Regions from separate parts of the Homo sapiens genome. Here region 2 is linked to region 1. The links come from fine-mapping of genetic effects on gene expression. Tissue or cell type: whole blood. Region 1 holds a variant in brackets; the other region holds the start of a gene. All regions are shown on one strand. Distances are between the middles of the regions.

Evidence for each region. PIP is the estimated chance that this variant, and not a neighbour inherited with it, causes the effect.
Region 2: ADGRA2 starts here. The variant in region 1 is fine-mapped to the expression of ADGRA2 in whole blood (TOPMed, PIP above 0.99).

Annotation. Positions count from the first base shown.
Region 1 is chr8:37,824,340-37,829,483 of GRCh38, forward strand. ADGRA2 (adhesion G protein-coupled receptor A2) reads left to right here. Exons shown (of 19, transcript NM_032777.10): 3 at 4,549-4,620; 4 at 4,922-4,993. Among named protein-coding and RNA genes, the nearest start is that of BRF2, 23 kb to the right of the region's middle. RefSeq lists enhancers at 1,233-3,490, 3,807-4,775. The variant G/A (reference allele first, on the strand shown) is at 2,365.
Region 2 is chr8:37,793,906-37,799,049 of GRCh38, forward strand. It overlaps ADGRA2 (adhesion G protein-coupled receptor A2), which reads left to right and starts at 2,978. Exons shown (of 19, transcript NM_032777.10): 1 at 2,978-3,629. The coding sequence starts at 3,364. RefSeq lists enhancers at 1,408-1,973, 1,974-2,539 and silencers at 2,803-3,042, 3,053-3,222, 3,503-3,592.

The DNA.
Region 1 (5,144 bases):
TTCAACTGGATTATTTGTCTTTTTGCTATTGAGTTGTAAGAGTTCTGTGTATATTCTAGATAGACATCCCTTATCAGATCTGATTTGCAAATATTTTCTCTCATTTTGTGGTTCTCTTTCACTTTCTTGATGGTATCCTCTAAGGTGCAATTTTTTTTTTTTTTTTTTTTTGAGACTGAGTTTTGCTCTTGTTGCCCAGGCTGGAGTGCAATGGTGTGATCTCAGCTCACTGCAACCTCCACCTCCCGGGTTCAAGCGATTCTCCTGCCTCAGCCTCCTGAATAGCTGAGATTACAAGGCTCCCGCCACCACACACGGCTAATTTTTTGTATTTTTAGTAGAGACAAGGTTTCAACATGTTAGCCAGGCTGGTCTCGAACTCCTGACCTTAGGTGATCCACCTGCCTCAGCCTCCCAAAGTGCTGGGATTATAGGCATGAGCCACTCACCTGGCCAAAGGTGTAAAATTTTTAAGTTGTTATTAAATTCAACTTAACAATCTGCTTTGTTTCCTATTTCACCCCGTTTTGCTTTTTCTGAACTTTTATTCATCCGTTACTCCCTCCTCCTTTCATTGCTTCTGCTCACAAACTCACTCTTACACACTCAGCTCCCAAAGCCTCTGTTTTCCCAACAACGGCATAGGGCATGATTTGCTCCCAGGAATCCTCCCTCCACATCTGGCTTAGGGGAATCCTCCTGCATATTGACAGAGATACAGGGAGGGGGTGGCCTGGAGTCAAGGGGCAATGGGTAGCAGGGAGGGGAAGTGCCTTCAACACCCTGCGTCTTTCCCAGGTTCCAAGGACAGGGCTCTGTGGAAGCATATCTGCGCGTGCTTCCACAAGCTACTCTAGCTTCACCTGAGAAACGGAGGGATCAGATCAGACCATCCAGCAAAGGACTTCTGTCATTTTTTTTTTAAGAGTCTCACTCTGTCGTCCAGGCTGGCGTGCAGCAGTGGCGAAATCTCAGCTCACTGCAACCTCCACCTCCCAGGTTCAGGTGATTCTCCTGCCTCAGCCTCCCATGTAGCTGGAATTACAGGCGCCCACCCCCACATTGGCTAAATTTTTTTTTTTTTTTTTTAGTAGAGACGGGGTTTCACCATGTTGGCCAGGCTGGTCTCGAACTCCTGACCTCAGGTGATCTGCCTACCTCGGCCTCCCAAAGTGCAGGGATTACAGGTGTGAGCCACCGCACCCGGCCGGGGCTTCTTAACTTGGGCTCTATGCCCCTCTGGAAATTGTATGCATAGTGATGGGTGTAGTGAGTTTTTCTCGGGCAGAAGTTCATGGCCTTCGTAGATCTTCAAAAGGATGTGCTAAGAAAAAAAAGGCTCAAAACAACCAATCTATAGGAGACCTGCAGGTCCCAAAAATGTCCAAGTCTTATGGTAGCATTTCTCCCGCCCCGAGGGAGGACACAGCTTCTTACCCAGAGGGACCAGGCAGCATCGGCTTCCCATGGGTCCTTCAGGCTCTCAGAGCTCAGCCCAGGGAGCCGAGACAGGCCAGCTCCCAAGGGCACTCGTGGGGGCTGCCTTGGTCACCCCGAGGCTCCTCCCCAGGCGGGCTTGAGGCAAGGGAGAAGGCATGCCCACCCTCCGTGGAGGTGGAGGTGCCCTCTCCAAGGCCCCAGCATGGCTGGGCTGCAGGAAATCGAGGGCAGGAAGAGGGGCTGGGGCCTGGACGCCGCCTCGCTCCCATCTGCAGAGCATCAGTGGGGCAGGCGGGTGGGGGCTTTTGAGGGGGCCCGGGGAGGAAATGAGAATAAACACAAGTGAGCGGGGAGGGAAGGGGGGCTGCGCCTAAGCCCCTTGGCAGCCCATGAAGGGAAGTGACACAATGAGGAATGTGTTTCCCTCTGCCCGTCCCCCACGTGGGGGTGGGAGGCTGAGCCCTGAGAATGGCCAGACCCCAACAGGGGCCAGGGGGCACATGCTGGGACAGTCCCAGAGGGGCAGGCAGTGAGGATGGGGTCTGGCGGCAAAACGGTGGGGGCTGGGCCAGAGGGGCACCCCTGGCAGCCAGGATACTTATCCTGCATCCCTCTCCCTCGGCCAGGGGCCTAGGATCAGTGTCCTGGCACGGTCCCTGTGTGCGCCTCACTGGGGGGCACCTCCCAGCACACCCCAGCATGGAAGCCATCCCTCCTCTAGGGAACTGGCCCCTTCTGGTGGCCCCTTCCCTTCCTTCTCCAGGGACTTGGGGTCATGGAGGCCGGCTGAGTCCTTCGAGTCCTTCCTATGGGAAGGAGCTGAGGGTGAGGGCTCCCCTGGCCGTGGGAAGGGCTGTGCACAGTGTTTCTGTCCCCAAGCGGGACTGTGCACAAACAGGCCCCCTGGTGGGACAGTACCTCCCC[G/A]TCCTGAACACCCATTTCCTCTCCTCCCAGCGGGCAGCCGGCTTGGTTAACCCCCTCCTGCCCAGTAATCCAGAGACGTTGATGAGGTTGTGGTGGGCAGGGCCAAGAGCCTCCTCAGCCCCCCACCCCTGACCTCCTCCTCCATCTGGGCTGAGGGGTGGCAGGGCCAAGAGTCCCCTCAGCCCCCAACCCTGACCCCCTCCTCCATCTGGGCTGAGGGGTGGTAAGGCCTGGGAAAGCAAGTGGGCCCCAGAAATCTCTGTGGATCTCCTGTCTTCCCGCCACAGCCCCTTCAGACAGGGGGCCCCCACCCTTGCCTGCTCCAGGGGTCCACCCACCCTTGCCTGCTGCCTCACAATCTCCTGCCAGTGGGTGGGAGCCAAGAGGCCACTGCCTCCATCTCAGACCCAGCACAGGGAGGCCCACTGGGCTGTGAGGCCCATGAGCTCTATGGAGCCTGAAGCCTGTCCTGGTTTAGCTCAGGAAAGAGCCAGCTGGCCTTTGAGTAGGTGGGCAACTGGCCCCACCCACTCTGCCTTCTAGGCATCTGTCCCTGGCTGTGCAGGGCACAGAGGACAGGGTGAGGGAGAAGGCCAGTGAGCAGGCACCCACCTTGGTCTTCTGTGGTCCTGCCTGCCCCAAGAGCCCAGGGGGCTGCCCTGGCAGGTGTGGGGTTAGGGCAGGCAGATACCCAGCAGGTCGCCTGTGGGTGGGCACTGTCTCCTCAGCACTGTCCCTGCAGCCCCAGGGGCAGGTGAGGAAGGGGGCAGAGAGTTGTGCCTAGGCCATGATTGAATTTGAGCCACAGACTCAGGGCTGGAAGGCTGCGGACTTACCTGCCGCTCACTCCTCCAGGCCAGGCTTGGCCCCTGGGATCCCTGGGGGGTCACAGCCCCCTTCTGTCCTGTCTCCCGACACTGCGGGCTCCTGCGGAGACCCATGGAGAAGACAGGACTGAGGACCTTGAACAAGCTGTCACTTCCCTGGCTTCCTCATCTGAAGGAGGAGGCTGGACAGGACTTACACCCCTGCCCTGGAGAGGAGCCAGGCAGAGTCCACCTGGGCCTCGGCCAGCCGCCTGACCTGTTTCCTCGCCTGTCAGACAGAGAGGGGCACAGGGATAAAACAGCCATAAAAATACCCTCCTTGGCCAAGCGCGGTGGCTCACACCTGTAACCCCAGCACTTTGGGAGGCCCAGGAGGGAGGATCACTTGAGCCCAGGAGTTCAAGACCAGCCTGGGCAACATAGTGGGACCCTGTCTCTACCAAAAAAAATTTTTTTTTTTAAATTAGCGGGTGTGGTGGCGCACACCTGTGGTGCCAGTTGCTTGGGAGGCAGAGGTTGGAGGATGGCTTGGGCCCAGGAATTTGAGGTTACAATGAGCCATGATCACACCACTGCACTCCAGCCTGGATGACAGAGAGACCCAGCCTCAAAAACAAAACAAAACAAAACAACTACCCCTCCCATGCGTCCCCTCCCCTGCCCACAAAGGCCAGGCTCAAGAAGCTTCTACCTTTGCATAGCAATTTACAAAACACCATGACACCTATTTTCAAATGCTTCCCAGGGCAACCCCAGCGACCTGCAGGGCAGTCCGGAGGTGGGGCAGGGTGGGAAAGGAGGCCTCCTAACTTCCAATCCAGGACGCTCTCCATGTTGTCTGAGGCCCTTGTGATCCCATCTCTTGGCTTCTTCGTCTCCTCTCTCTGTTCTGACCAGTGCCCGCTGATGGTAGCCAGGGAGGCGGAGGAGGCCTGTCCGAGGGGGTGGTTCTTTTTTTTTTTTTTTTTTTTTTTGAGATGGAGTCTCGCTCTGTCGCCCAGGCTGGAGTGCAGTGGCGCGATCTTGGCTCCCTGCAGCCTCCGCCTCCCGGGTTCAAGCAATTCTCCTGCCTAGCTGGGGCTACAGGTGCACACTGCCACACCTGGCTAATTTTTTTTTTTTTTTTTTGTATTTTTAGTAGAGACGGGGTTTCACCATGTTGGCCAGGATGGCCTTGATCAGGGGTGGTTCTTTAATCCCACCTCCCACCCGGTGCTGAGGAGAGCAGAGGTTTAGCAGGAAGTCAAGTCCCTGAGAAACCCAGCAACAACACCGTGGTGACAGTGAGGACCCCTCCCGGGGAGCAGGGCGGCTCCAGCGGGGAGAGGTGTGAGGGCCTCTGCACTTGCCTCTGCAGGGACCTGAGGAACAACATCATCAGCACAGTGCAGCCGGGCGCCTTCCTGGGCCTGGGGGAGCTGAAGCGTTTGTGAGTGGCACGCCCTCCCCTGACCCCACCCCTCCCCTCCCGAGGGAGAAAGTCACCCCTCCTGCTCCATGCCCACCCCCTTCCTCTCACCCCCCCACACCTGCCCCTCCTTTCCGCTTGGGTGCCTTGGCTGGGGTCAAAGGAGCTGGCATTTCCAGTCCAGCTGCGGCCTGGCCCCAACCTCATCTCCTTTTTCATCCCACCCCCCAACACAAGCCCTGGCCCCACCCATGTGTTCCTCACAAGTGGACCCACGTGCTGCCACGTGGCCAACATGCTGAGGTTGCCTGTGTCTCTCTAGAGATCTCTCCAACAACCGGATTGGCTGTCTCACCTCCGAGACCTTCCAGGGCCTCCCCAGGCTTCTCCGACTGTAAGTGATGGGGTGAGAAGTGGGGAGGGGAGGAGAGGGAAGAAGTGCATAGGAAGCAAAATGTGGCCCCCAACCCTTCCACATCCCACCTGCTCTCCTCCGCCGGCCCATGGACACCCTAAGACCCCATCTCAGTTGTCCCCTGTTCCCT
Region 2 (5,144 bases), 30 kb before region 1:
TCTGCAGGAAGCTTCCCAGGGGAAAGTCTCCCTGTGGCTCAGAGAAGAAAGCACTTAAAAAGGAACCATGGCCGGGCACGGTATACTAGAAATAAGAAGAAAAAAGGATTAAAACATGCTCATGGCAGGTTGCGGTGGCTCACTCCTATAATCCCAGAACTTTGGGAGGCCAAGGCGAGTGGATCACCTGAGGTCAGGAGTTTGAGACCAGCCTGGCCAATATGGTGAAACCCTGTCTCTCCTAAAAATACAAAAATTAGCCAGGCATGGTGGCAGGCGCCTGTAATCCCAGCTACTTGGGAGGCTGTGACAGGAGAATCACTTGAACCCAGGAGGTAGAGGTTGCAGTGAGCTGAGATTGTGCCACTGCACTCCAGCATGGGTGACAGAGCTAGACTCCATCACAAACAAACAAACAAACAAACAGACAAACATGCTCATGGCCAGGCATGGTGGCTCACACCTGTAATCCCAGCACTTTGGGAGGCCAAGTCAGGCAGATTGCTGGAGTCCAGGAGTTTGAGACCAGCCTGGGCAACATGGCGAGATCCCCATCTCTACAAAACATTAAAAAAAATTAGTTGCATGCAATAACAAACCTGTAGTTCCAGCTACTTGGGAGGCGGAGGTGGGAGGATTGAACCCAGGAGATCGAGGCTGCCGTGTTCCTGCCACTGCACTCCAGCCTGGGTGACAGAGAGAGACCTTGTCTCACACATACACAAAAAAAGGAATCAGAAAGTAAGTTCCTACCCTTGGACTCTAGTCTCAGTGACTCAGTTTCTTCATCCATACTTGCAAAATAAGAAAGTAACCTCCACTTCATCACCTCCCTGGGTGGGTAAGAAGTCAAATGTGGTGACCCTCAGGACAGTCCAGTGTTTTGTAGATGTCTCCATCAGACATTTCATTCCTAGTGGTGGGGAAGCCTCGCCTCATTAAATGTCCTTTGGCCTCTGTTCAGCCTCCAGGAGTGGGTGTTCCAGTAGAATTCTTCTTTAGACTTTGAGTGTCTTCATTTAGCCAAAGGAAATCACAGAAAAGCTATATGACCCAGGCCAGAGATCTCAGAGTCTTCCTTGCCTGTGAGCAGGAGGGCTGCACAGCCCTGCCTATGGGCTGTGGCTCTGCTGTCAGCTCTTTCCTGAGGAATGCAGCCTGGGCCACCGCCTGTGAGGGCTCCTGCTGGGGGAGTCCATTCCCCTTCTCCCTTCCTCCATTTGCAATCACTATTTATTTATCTTTGGAAGTTCAAGGAACCAGAGAGCCTGCAACTGGGGGAGATCTGTGGAGCCAGGGAGGGAAAGTGAAGAAGCCAACATCTAGGCCCCTGCCTGCCGCCAACGCCAACGGGCAAGAGAAGAAAGCCATTCCCTGCATAGTCAGGGTAGACTTGGCTGACAGGCACAGGGGCCCTAGAAAAGGCACCACCGCACATCAGCAGGGCTAAGCTCACTAAAGAATGTGGCATTCACCTTGGGGACCGCTTGGGTGGTAGAGTGAAGGAGGGGGAACGGGAGTCCTGCCCCATCCCGGCAGCTCTATTAAGCAACAGAAAGGTGAGCTTCTGTGGGGAAACAGAGGAAGCAGACCCCTGGGCTGCACTTCTTACTGCCTGTCCCCAGCCCTGGTTCCGGTGTACTGCAGGCTGTTTTTTTTTTAATTAATTTATTTATTTATTGAGACGGAGTCTCACTTTGTCACCAGGCTGCAGTGCAGTGGCACGCTCTCAGCTCACTGCAACCTCCGCCTCCTGGGTTCAAGCAATTCTCGTGCCTCAGCCTCCCAAGTAGCTGGGATTACAGGCGCCCACCACGACGCCCGGATAATTTTTGTATATTTAGTACAGACAGGGTTTCATCATTTTGGCCAGGTGGATCTCAAACTCCTCACCTCAAGTGATCCGCCCGCCTCGGCCTCGAAAAGTGCTGGGATTACAGGTGTCAGCCACCGCGCCCGGCCTGCAGGCAGCTTTATACCCACCACTAGTTGTCAAGGTCACCCCTGCCACCACCAGTCCTCTGCCTTTGGAAACCATGTGCCCCTCCCCCCCACCACACTCTCTTATTCTAATGCCACGATTTACTGGGCATCTAATGCCACTCTATAAACTGGGGAGCAGGCAGAGCCCCATTTCAACCCCAGAGATCTGCTACCCCAGCAAGCTAGGGGCTGTGTCCAAGGTCAGACAGTAATGAGAGGCAGAGCCGAGTCTGGAATAGGGGTCTCCAGACTCACTGCGCAGTGCTCTTTCCACACCCTGCTGCAAAGCCCTGCTCCTTCTCATCTACTTTTCCCTTGTCCCACTCACTGTCCCCGAAACACACACACACACACACACACACACACACACAGCGTTGTGGAAAATGTAGGAGGCCCAGTCTAGCCTCTAGCCTTGTCTGCCTTGGCCTTTGACCTCTCCTTGGCCGAATGACATGCACCCCCCGCTGAGCGAGGTCACCGCAGCGGAGGAGGGTCTGCTGCCTCCTTGTCTCGGCTGCCATCCTCCTGCGGCTGCCTCCACCGGAGCTGGAAGGAGAGTGAGAGCCGACTTCCAGACTGATCATCGTGTCAGGGGCCAAAGGAAACCTCGGAGCCTTCCACCAAGTTCAACCCAAAACAGGGCGCCCCAGACGTCTCTGTCCAAGCCCGCGGGTCCAGGAGGGCCCCAGCAGCCTGGAGACGCAAGCTGCACCGGCACGGACGAGGGAAATTTTGTGGAAGGTGGTGGTGGTCGGCTCAGAGGTCTGAGATGGGTTGCGGAAAGGAAGGGTCCTGGCCCGGGGCGCGGGGACAAGCGGGAGAGGAGTGTTGGTGCAGGGCGGGCGCGGGGACGCAGGGTCCTCGAACCAGCTGGCCCGCCCCCACTCGGCAGAGGGTCTAGGCCTGGCCGCGTGTCGGTCGGCGCTAGGGCCCCGCGGAAGGCCCGGGCGGGCGGGGACCGGCGGCGGGAGCGGCGCGGCGCGGAGCTGCCTCCATCCATGGCACGGAGCGGCGGCGGCGGCGGCAGCAGGAGCCCGGCGCGATCCGCTAGGTCCCAGCCCAGCGCCCAGCGAGCAGGCGACGCGGAGGGGCCGGGCCTCCAGTGTCCCGAGGGCCGGGCGCTGAGACTCCGGCCGCGCAGCTGGGAGCTGCCCGCGCTGCGCTGACAGCCGCGCCGACGTCCTCCCCGCCGGGGCGCTCGCAGGACATGCCCCCGGGGCGCGGCGGCGGGGACCCCGGGGCTCGCCTCCGCCCAGGGCCCCCCTCCACGCCCTCGGGAGCCCCGGGCCCCCGCTGAGCACTCCTCCCGCACGCCTGGGTCCCTCCGGCCGGCGCGCAGCCCGGCCCCAGCGCTGTGGGTCCCCGCGGGGCGATGGGTTGATGGGCGCCGGGGGACGCAGGATGCGGGGGGCGCCCGCGCGCCTGCTGCTGCCGCTGCTGCCGTGGCTCCTGCTGCTCCTGGCGCCCGAGGCTCGGGGCGCGCCCGGCTGCCCGCTATCCATCCGCAGCTGCAAGTGCTCGGGGGAGCGGCCCAAGGGGCTGAGCGGCGGCGTCCCTGGCCCGGCTCGGCGGAGGGTGGTGTGCAGCGGCGGGGACCTCCCGGAGCCTCCCGAGCCCGGCCTTCTGCCTAACGGCACCGTTACCCTGTGAGTACCCTACCAGGCCAGTTCCGTCCGAGCCGGGACTGGGGACGAAGGGAGGCGAGACGGGAGGGGTGGGAGCAGGGGGAAGGGGGCTATCCCCCCACTTCAGAGATTTCTGGACAGGCCTGGGTTCAGGCCCCCAGAGGGGAAGATTGGAGGAGCAGGGGAGAGACTGGGGCTCCAGGAGCGTGGAGGCGGGAAGGGGCTGCGGGGGACAGGCGCACCCCAGAGAAAGGCACCGCAGGCGCCCACTCACCTGCACAGGTGAAGTGGAGAGCACGCCTGCAGGGCACCCACGCCCCGGATTTCCAGCCTGGACTAGGGTTGCGGACTTTGGGGACCTGAGAAGGGTGAGAGCGGGGAATGCTCAGGAAAGATCGACGCTCGTGGCCCAGGAGGGGGCTGTGGTCCTAACCACTACGGTCGCGTCCCGGACTGGGCTGGAGGAGTCTCCGGATTTACCTGGCTGGCCTTGTCCCTTCAATTGGGGTCATCCCATCCTTGCCCCCTGGCCTGCCAGCGCCGCTTCCAGCCGGTCTCCTTAGGGCAAGGGGAGGCTGGGCTCAGAAAAGTCGGCCCTTGGAATACCGGCGCTCCTGGGCTGCAGGAGACCCTGGCGTCCCCATCCCTCTAGAGGCCCCTCTCCCACGGCGCCGTTTGTGCAGTGAGCTCTGTGCTGGGTCCCGCGTCCTTGCCTCTCCTTTGCCTCTCCTGGAAGTAACTCGAGCTTTGGCTGTTTCTCCATTGACTTCGCGCAAAGATTGCGAAGAAAGAAACGCGGCTGGGGAAGCGGGGTTCCCTCACCGCAGCCCACCCGGGCCTCCTTCCGCGACTTCCCTCTTAGTCAGGGCCTCAGTACGCCTTTGCTTTGCTGGCAGCGAGCGCTGCAGCGCCGCAGCCCGACCCCAAGCCTCCTACAAGGGGGTCGCAAGTCCCAGCAGCCGCGCGAGCATTGGCGACCCCTCCCCACCGCAGAGATTTCCTGCGCCGACCACGTGCTCGCAGCTCCACGCACGCCGTGGATTTGAGGGTCGGGCCCCCGCGGCCGCCGCTTCCTTTCCTGTCCCAAATCCAGCCTAAGAGCCGCTTCCCTTTCCCTGTCCTCCTGACCCCAGTGGCAACCGTTTCTCCACCGCCCCTTGCCCGCAGTCGGGGCTGGCCCAGTCTTTTCGATTGTGTCCAGAACAATACAGTAACGCCTCTGGTTGGGTGAGTTCAGAGGCTGCCCGCTTCCTGACAGGACACAACTGGTCAGCCTCTGACGCTGGCCGCCCGGCCTGCATTTTCCCCGGCCCGGGTGTGTGTGTGCATGTGTGTGCCTTAAGGGTGGAGGCGGTGTGTCTGCTCGCTGCCGCCTCCCTGCTGCTCAGGGTAAGGCTGTGGCCAGGGAAGGCACCTGTGGCTGTTCAGGGCAGCTCTCTCTGACTGTCCGCTGGGGTTTGAGGGTCCAGGCAGGCCTGGGCATTCCCCAGCTCACTTAGTTCTGGAGGAGAAAAATGCTTGCTCTGCGGAACAGTC